Homo sapiens: one gene and its partner. The protein of the gene in region 1 purifies or fractionates together with the protein of each later gene. This does not show direct contact. Each region holds a gene or a part of one and is shown in the gene's direction. Other genes may lie near its edges.

What was found. Proteins that work in one complex are often made in the same cells at the same time.
Region 2: the proteins of ROBO2 (region 1) and TXK fractionate together in Homo sapiens (co-fractionation; one large-scale study listed by BioGRID). This does not show direct contact.

What each region holds. Positions count from the first base shown.
Region 1 is NC_000003.12:77,637,242-77,642,200, forward strand, and holds part of ROBO2 (roundabout homolog 2 isoform 23 precursor), read left to right. Parts: intron 1-4,959. UniProt on the Homo sapiens protein: Receptor for SLIT2, and probably SLIT1, which are thought to act as molecular guidance cue in cellular migration, including axonal navigation at the ventral midline of the neural tube and projection of axons to different regions during neuronal development.
Region 2 is NC_000004.12:48,109,681-48,114,639, reverse strand, and holds part of TXK (tyrosine-protein kinase TXK), read left to right. Parts: intron 1-237; coding exon 238-292; intron 293-299; exon of another isoform or gene 300-898; coding exon of another isoform or gene 899-978; intron 979-1,330; coding exon 1,331-1,433; intron 1,434-2,127; coding exon 2,128-2,333; intron 2,334-4,036; coding exon 4,037-4,102; intron 4,103-4,110; exon of another isoform or gene 4,111-4,636; coding exon of another isoform or gene 4,637-4,659; intron 4,660-4,959. UniProt on the Homo sapiens protein: Non-receptor tyrosine kinase that plays a redundant role with ITK in regulation of the adaptive immune response. Regulates the development, function and differentiation of conventional T-cells and nonconventional NKT-cells.

The sequences.
Region 1 (4,959 bases):
TACACTTATCATTATAGGACAGAATGAAGCTTAGTTGAAAAAGAAGAAAAGCATTGGTTTTTTATTAGTTTGGGGAAGGGAGTATCCAATCCTGCAGCCCTATTTGTGCTTTCTTTTGTCATCTTGCAAAGGTAAGAGGACTTAAAAAGCCAAATATATTGTTCTACATACTTTCCGGTTTACTTATCTTTCCTGCTTCCTTTGTTTTCAATAGAATATGAAGGTTAAGGGTAGAATTGAGATTTTTGAGTCTCTATAAATGTGTATCCTGTGGTGAGTAAAAATGGTCACCACTGCCTTTCTGCCTTATATGTTCAGAAGATTAGCTGAGCATTTAAAACTATTCGTAGTGTTCATCTAATTCTTCGTAAATAAAAAAGGACTACTTTCACTGAATTGCTAGGTATAAATCTAGTAATTGATAATTTTGTATATTTTTTCTGTTGTGAATATTGTGGAGAGAGAAAAATGTCTAGGTATAGAATTTTCTGTGGTTTTTCAGAAATGTTTGAAGATAATATTCAGAATATGTGGAAGATATAAAATATAAATCAACAAAATACAGATCTCTTTTTTTCTAAGACACTTTTATTGCAAGCTTTTTTAGAATGTTTCCTTAAAGCAAGCTACCTCCTAGTTTAAAGTATGATCAATATATTGCTTATCTTTCTAAAAAATAAATGTTTCTAAATTTTCAAAATTGCCAGCATTTCAAAAAGGGGTTATGGATTATGTGTTATTAGAAAATGATACATTTTAGAAGTAGTGATATAGCAAAGGAAATTTCAGCCCACATATCTTCCCAAGTGCTTAATCCAAAGCCATTTTAATTATGATACAGTGCAAAGACATTTATTTTGGATGGTGCTCTACAGGTTATCCTTAAGAACATTGTTATTTTGCAGCAAATGCATATGCCATAGCATTTATATGGTATGGATCCATATGTCAGAAATAATTTCATAACTTTTTATGTAAAAATCAAGTTGTTCTTTTTGGGAAGGCTGATACTTAGCAGCATTGATTGTACAGACATTTTACAATAAACCTTTTGCATTATAGATTTTACAACAGTGTTTGCTGTTTTCTAAGCAGTATTGTAAAGATGTAGGCCTTTTTAGCACTGGGATACCATCATTTCTGGATCAGACCTTTATGGTTTCTGAGGGGAAGACAGAACATGAGTGGTTGTTGGGAGGTTGTAATGGCAAGTGGCACACATCACTTCTATTTCATTGAAAACAACTCTGCCACGTGGTGTCAAACTAACTACTGGGGTGAGAAAGCTGCCTTCCCTGTGTCCCATAAGAGAGATTATGAATGGTGGGAAATGTCAGTCTGTATCCCAAAGACTGAAAAACCCACACACATCTTAAAGAGTGTTCTTCTCCCTTTTGTAAAGTTTCTCCAAAGCAGGCATTGCTGAGTCCAAATCTTGTATTCCATTTGTCTTATAAATCAAAGAATACCCTTGGAAGCCAATATATTAACCAATGCTAAAAAAGATAGATCTGTCTATCCATCAACCTGTTTCTCCTAGATAATTTATTTCCAGCCTATTCTCCCTTTCACCTAGCTTTTTTTTTTTTTTTTTTTTTTTTTGAGAGGGAGTTTTGTTCCTGTCACCCAGGCTGGAGTGCAATGGTGCGATCTCAGCTCACTGTAACTCCCACCTTCCGGGTTCAAGCGATTCTCCTGCCTCAGTCTCCCAAGTAGCTGGGATTACAGGCATCCACCACCACACCCAGCAAATTTTGTATTTTTGGTAGGTAGGGACAGGGTTTCACCATGAGGGCCAGGCTAGTCTTGAACTTCTGACCTGAGGCTCTCTGCCCACCTCCACCTCCCAAAGTGCCAGGATTATAGGCATGAGCCACCATGCCCGGCCCCTTTCCCCTAGTTCTTAATGTCCTGTTCAGAGAAGGGGCTCTTTCTCAGCTCTGCCACATACTAGCTTTGGCCTTTGAGCAAATAAATTTACATATTAATTAATCTATTCACTCAAATACTTATTAAGTATATAACATATAATAGACAATGGGAGCCAAACAGACAAAATCCCCTGCCTTTTTATATTTTAGTTGGGGAAGATAGATAAAGACCAACCTAAGTACATACATGAACATATAAGTAAGATGGTGATAAATGTTATGGGGAAAAAACAAAGGGAAGGGAGTTGAGAAGTATAGGTGTAGGGAGGAAGTATTTTTAAGTAGAGTGACTGGGGAAGTCCTCACCAGGAAGTCAGCATTTCAGAAAAGACTGGAATAACATAAGCAAAAAAGTAATGCTGATATCTGAGGAAAGGTTATTCCAGGAAATGAGAATGGCAAGTGAAGCTTGAGACTTATTTGATAAAAAGGAAAGGGAACGATATGACTGGAGCAGAGAGAGAAACAAGATAGAGTACGAAGTCAGGCAAGCAAACAAGGGCTAGTGTTTGTGAGACCTTTAAGCTACCATAATGACATTGGCTCTTACTTTGAATGGTAAACCACTGGACGGGGTGTGTATATGTGTGCATGCATGTGTGTGTGTGTAAGGCAGGGAAGTGACATGATCTTATTTGTATATTTTTTAAAAAGTCATTCTATTCTAGCTGCTGTGTTGAGATGTACTAAATGAGGCAAGGTGGAGATTGTGGAAGCTACCTAGGGAATAGATGACGGTGGTTCATACCAAAGGAGAATCAATGGCAGTGTTAACAAAGGTTGGATTTTGGAGGTAGAGCTAACGGGAGTTGTTATGAAATTAACATAGGCCATAAAGAAAGCAAACCACATTACTCTGAAATTTTGGCTAACTTGTAGAATGTAACTGTGACCAACTGAGAGAAGAAACACTGCAGAGGAAGCATTTTTTTTTTTTTTTTTTTTTTTTTTTTTTTTGAGACGGAGTCTCGCTCTATCCGCCAGGCTGGAGTACAGTGGGGCGATCTCGGCTCACTGCAAGATCCGCCTCCCGGGTTCACGCCATTCTCCTGCCTCAGCCTCCCGAGTAGCTGGGACTAAAGGCGCCCGCCACCACACTCGGGTAATTGTTTTTGTATTTTTAGTAGAGACGGGGTTTCACTGTGTTAGCCAGGATGGTCTCGATCTCTTGACCTCGTGATCCGCCCGCCTTGGCCTCCCAAAGTGCTGCGATTTACAGGCGTGAGCCACTGCGCCCGGCCGCATATTTTATATAGGATGATCTAGAGCTGAGTTCTCATACATGAAATTTGAGAAGCTTTCTGAACACCTAAGTGGAACTGTCCAGTGTAGCTCTGGTTACATGAGTCTGGAGTTCATGGGAGGAAAGATCCAAGCTGGAGATTTTTAATTACTTTGTGCCTTCATTTTCTTGTCTAAAAACAGAAGGTAATAATGGCACCTATCTCATTGGACTGTTGTGTGCCTGAAAAGAGCTAATCCTCGGTAGGCCAGTAAGAGACTTTATAGTGAATTGATTTAGTGGAAATGAATCAACATAGAAATGAATAATAAATTTAATTTAAGTAAATGTATTTGATTACATACTTTTATTTTTCAAAAAACCATTCTTAATCCCATGTCTTTTTCCAATTAGTTTATTTCAGTGTGCATGTAATGTCCTTTCTTAAAATATACAAACTCCAAGGATATTACTTATGAAGCTATATAATTTTAGGTTAAATTAAATAATAATCAGAATTTTAGCTGCATAAGCAGATGCCGTTTTGGCCATTTTAAAAATTAAGCTGCTCTGATGCAGAATAAAAATCAATGACAAGATAAGTTATTTTGGAAGAAAATACAATAATTTCTCCTCACTGGCAGTCTAAGTTCAATCAATCAAATGAAATAATTAATTTGCATTTATAATAACATATAGTGAAGGAAGTCAGTACTATCGAATATAAAGGAAACACCAAACTCATTGGATTATCCAACAAACAGATATCTCAATATTGGATTAGCTCTTCATTTTGGAAAAATATTCCAAATGCAACTTTATCCTCCGAAACAGAGACCCTGTTCCCTTCAGTTATTAGCAATTCATAATTTAACATGAGGACATACGTAAGAACTGGCAATGCTGCTCCAACTTAGGAACTCAGAGGAGATGCTCCAGAGACCAACATTATCAGTCCAATGCAGATTAGTATCACTTTGCTCATAAAAGAGAGTATAAAGGTTCTTGAAGTTTTTGAAAGGAGCGGCTTAGCTGACTGTTAAGGAAGCTATCTTTTGTCTACAAGAAATTTATACTTTTTCCTTCTAAATTTCACAAACAGAATATTATTAGAGACAACAGAATACATTTACAAAAATGGCATCAGAAATAATTGAATACATTGTGTACAATATCTTCTATTAATGAAATAAATGTATATTTTATATGATATTTGGTCTTTATGAAAAAATAATATAATTACCAATATTCTAAGGATGAACAAAGAAGTTTACAATAGCATGCAAGAAAAATGAGAAGAAAATGATACAAATTGATGTTCAGAAGATTTCAAAATCTTCAGCAAAGTAATTTCAGAACTAATACATACTTAAAAGAGAAAGAAAGAACTGTGATTTCACAGTCGAAGGCATACAAAATATAAAGGTATTATGATCTGAAGAGTTAATAAAAGAGAGATGAAAAGGGAGTTGATATTGGAACCTTAAATTTTTTCCTATCTGATATTTACTTTAAAGAGCTTTTCTGAAAAATTATCTCTTCTACTCTATCTCAAATTTCTGTGAGGCATTGTCTTCTCTAGCACCATAAAACACATTCAGTCTTTACTCTGAACATTGGTTATTACTTATTAAAATTAATACATCGGAAGATTGTAATATATTAGTTGTAACTCATTAGCTAACTCATGAAACGAACAGCCAGAATTGGTTGTCAAGCAGAATATTAATTGCATTTAATAAATGTTAGTTTAATGTTGTTAAATGTGCCACATACATGGGTAAAGGCAGTCATATGTTGCATATG
Region 2 (4,959 bases), on another chromosome or scaffold:
AGGAAATGCAAAAACCAGGCCAGAGGAGAAGAGCCTGAGAAGGGAAACCACACTGGCCAAGGTGCCAGAAACTTATTTTTTGCTTTAGTGACAGTTATTTGTCTTCCACTAGTGAAGGAAGGCACGATCGAGACTTTCATACGCTTTATAATAATTCGTCTCACCCTTCCCTTAGAGACTCCCTCAATATCACGTACTCATGGCTTTCTAACAGCTGAGAAATGATCTGCTTTTCAGATAACACCATCCAGTCGGTTTTCTGTTGCTGCTGTTGCTGTTCAGTGCAGAAGCGGTAAGTCTACTTCCGAGGGCAATTTCTTGAAAATTAATTAATTCCGTTTCTTTATTACCTGTGGAGTCACCATGTCTCTTTGCACCCGCTGTTCTCTCTACCTGGGAACCTTCTCCCATTTTCTCCCTGTGGAATGCCTATTTGTTTACAGGTCTAGGTCAAATGTCAGGTCATCTGGGATCCTTTCCTGATCCTTTAGATTTCATTGTTCATTCCATTGCATTCCCACCGTGTGCGGCATTGTTCTCCACTTAATTTTTATTTCATGTATGTTGTTTATAGGTCTGTGCTCCAATACGTATTTTTTCCCTTTAAGGGCAAGAATCCTATCTTAGTTATCTATCTCCCCAAAACTACCGGTGTATCTTATACTTTGGTGGCAGTAAATGACTCTGTAAGAATTAAATCCAAGGCAGCATGTTAACAGAAAAAGCTAACATTTAACAGGAGCTTCCTGTATATCAGATACTATGCTAAAAGATTTATGTTTATTAACTCATACAGTTCTCAAAACCACCTACTTTTTTTTTTTATGATCCCCATTTTACAGATGAGGAAATTGAAGATTAGAGAGGTTACATTGCTTACCCAAGGCCACACTATGAAATGGTGGAGCTGGGATTCAAACTCTTGTTCCTAATCACTATACCATGTCTATTTATAACAAAAAGACACCATCAAATGAGGTAATGCATATAAAATGACAAACACTGAGCCAGATATGGAGTAAGTTTTCATTACAATGATTATAACTTTATGCCCTGAAGATGCACCAGACTCTACTGGGAATGTGACATGTTTTCTCAATTTTATTTTATAACAACTCTATGCTCTTAGCACCTCTAGTTCCTGGAGAAGGAAACTTAAGTTCTTAAAACCAGTAATTTGCCCAGGGAGATGGAGTTAGGAAGCCTTCTAAATGAAAATGGAGTTGGAAAGAGACCTGGATTTTTCTGCTATTTCTGTGAAAATCTAGTGGATGTATAGATAACTTTTGTACAAATAATTATTTGTAACATGATTGCTTTTCAATGTCAGACAAATGAGAACACAGATAAGCCTGAGCACAGATGAAGAGCTTCCAGAAAAATACACCCAGCGTCGCAGGCCGTGGCTCAGCCAATTGTCAAATAAGAAGCAAGTAAGTATCATTTTGACAGGCAAGAGGGGAATGGAGAAGGTTGTCTTTTTAGAGTCTTCATTCATGAGGTGCTGTTTGTTGCCCAGAATCTAGTATCCTGCTTGGCATAAAATAAGTGCTCAGTAATTTGTGAAGGAATGTTCTAGAAGAAAGTAAAAGGAAAAAGAAAAGACCAGTTAAAATAGGCTACTTATATTTAAAGGCAGAACTTGAAAATGGGCAATGAGTGGGAAAAAACATATTCTGGCTTCTGTCATTTTGAGGCTGAGATTAATTTTCACTTCAGTGAGAAACAGCATTCTTAGGAAGTATGGTAAACCCAAGCACAAACTGCCACCACATAAAAAGAAAAAGGCCATTTTTCTTCTTTTAAGGAGAAAAAAAATCCTTAAAACAAGGTAAAACTATTGAAGAGGAGTACATCATCTTTTGAAAATTTTGATATGAAAAAAAATCCAGTAAAATGCTGTCAAGAGAACTTGTGATCTCAAAAGTGTACAAAATGATGAGTGTATTGCTGGATCCTAAAGGAGTTTTATAGTTAGTCCTTTTCTACATTTATCTCATCCTGGCTTCTGCCTTGGTGTAGCTGGATAAGAAAAGTGAGGCAGAAGGCAAATATGCTTTGTCCCTATATTTTTTAGTACAAATTATTAAAATGATAGTAAAACAACTCACTTATTGGTTTTCACAGTCCAACACGGGCCGTGTGCAGCCGTCAAAACGAAAGCCACTGCCTCCCCTCCCACCCTCTGAGGTTGCTGAAGAGAAGATCCAAGTCAAGGCACTTTATGATTTTCTGCCCAGAGAACCCTGTAATTTAGCCTTAAGGAGAGCAGAAGAATACCTGATACTGGAGAAATACAATCCTCACTGGTGGAAGGCAAGAGACCGTTTGGGGTAAGACACTTACATGACTTAGTCAGTATCCAATTCTTCCAACACAAAGAAGACTACTTAGTGACTCAGGCTTATAACTCTTCCCTCTGCATGAAATGGAATCTGTCCCCTCTCCCCCAGGATGTGTGAGAGAATGAGAGAACAGTGATTTCAGGCAGAGTCTCAGAACCAGATACACCTGGCTTCACATCCTGATGCTGCCGCTTACTATTGTGTGTCCCCGGGCAAGTCACTTACCGTCTCTGAGTTTTTGTTTCTTTATTTGTACAATGGAAATAATAATTCTGACAATGTAGGTTCTTATTCTAATTTGTGCTTTCATTTGGGAATTTGTCAGTTTTTTCCTGTTAAGCTCTAAGGTAAGAACAGAAATAGTATTTTATTCACTTTTATGTTTCTAGAATGACTAGTTTTGAAAGCAAACATTGCAGTCGCTGCTGAATTAGATTAGAAAGAAAAAAGACCCTGGGATGCAGATAGGTTTCATTGTGCCAATTGCAACAGATGGTTAATGCCTGACTGGAGTCCTGAGTTGAGAAGAATTCTGAGGAATATCTGGACTTCCTGAGAGAGAAGGCTGGCATTGATTTCTGATATTTGCCAAGATTTGGAGATTTTAAGTATCTAAGTATTATAAGCATGTAAATTACATACCTCTCCAACTACATTTTCTCAATGATGTGGCTCTCTTAACAGTTCTCAACATGTGGTGGAGACTTTTCAGTGGAAAAAGAGGCATTAGTAGGTTCAGGACTGTGTAATTAGCCACACCTGCGGGTATACTATTGGCATGCCTCAGACTTAAAAATTGAATTTTTTATTTCACAGTAAGTGAATAGAGTTTTTAAAAATATATAATATGCAAACATTAATGTCAAAATTCTGCTTTGCCACTACCTCCAAACCCAAGTGTCTCCCCAAAAGTAAATACTATTATCCATTTTCAGATTATTTTCAGTATACTTACATGCACATATCAAAATATATGGTATTGTTTGTAGAATTCATTTACCTAAATCTTATCTTACTTTCTGCATGATTCTGCAACTTACTTTTATTTCTCAATAATATGTCTTGGAGATCTTTTTGTAATTTCAAATGTTGGTTAAGGTATAGGAAAAGTGAAACTTCTACCATGCTGATAGGTGTGTAAGTTGGTATATCCTCCTTTGAGGACAATTTGTTGCATATCCTGAAAGATGTACATATCCCGTGACTTAGCAATTCCCGTCTTTGCTATCTGTCTTTGAGAAATATTCTTCTGTACAAGAAGGCGTGTTCAAGGATTTCTTTACAGCGTTGCTTCTACTAGCAAAGTAGCTAAACTAGAATACCTATGCTATGGAATACTCCTCAGCAATTGAAAAGAATGAAGTCGATGTCTTTGTAATTGCTGTGTTTTTAACATAATCACTATGATATCAGATGATCATTTAAGTGCCCCTTTTTCTCTCTGAAAAGATTGTGGGGTCATAAAACCTCTTAAACTACTCACATTACAAGTTGGCATCTTAATACATTCCTTGTACAGAGATTTTTGTTGAGTTAGAAATAAAAAAACTTTTTTTTCTCCTTTTAACAATTTAATCAGTAAAATGAATTTGATTTCCCCCCTACATCCTTGAGGTTTTAAAAGGATTGTTGCCATGATAATGCCACAAACATGCCAAGCATTTTGATTTTTGCTTTTTCTTTTGTTGTAGGAATGAAGGCTTAATCCCAAGCAACTATGTGACTGAAAACAAAATAACTAATTTAGAAATATATGAGTAAGTCTTCTCCAAAATATAACCTATGAAAATCAGGGACATTTTGGCAGCTTGTAAGTATAGATACTGTTTTGGGTCTGTAGAAGGAAAAAAAAGTAACACATTTGACAGCGTTAATAATAAAGAGACGTTTGATCCTTATCATGGTTGATTCAGAAACTTCTTTTCCTTATACTTATTTTTGTTCTGTTTTGTATAGCCACTTTTTCTGTTTTAACAGTGACAGCCTGAACCCAAACACTCATCTGGCACTTATTTTACTATATATCTTAACTGGAAAATTTACTTTAAAAAATGACATTAAATTTTCAATGAGTGGTAAACTTAACCATATAGATAAAGTACTATATTTTGGCTTATGTTTTTATATGTTTTAGAAATAGCTGACGATAAGAACTAGGCTAATGCTGTAGTTTGGAAGAACTGTTTGGCATGTTCACTAGAGTTCCGCCTGAAATCTATTTTTGTTACAATTACAGATTTGGAAGATGGAGGAAATCTTAGCAATCACTTTTTTAGCCCCTCATTTTGCAGATGAGAAGACTGATAGATTACAGGTAGAGAACGGCCTGAGACTAGTCATATGTTTTTTATAAATTTAGATTTTCAGTTTGAGCATCTCCCCCTACCTTCATCCCACTTGGGCACTTATCTTAAAATTAGCATATGCTTCCACCAGGTGGCAGTAGGTAATATGCATTGAGGCATTAAGACAAGTGCTTCTCTGAGAACCAGGCAGCAAATACAATTGAATGAGAGAACCTCCTTGGTTGGTCTTGCTACTAATAAAGCCCACCTGGAGGCCTAACTCAGTACATCTCTCCTAAAACAAATTCGAATTCAAAAGCTTTGGTGGA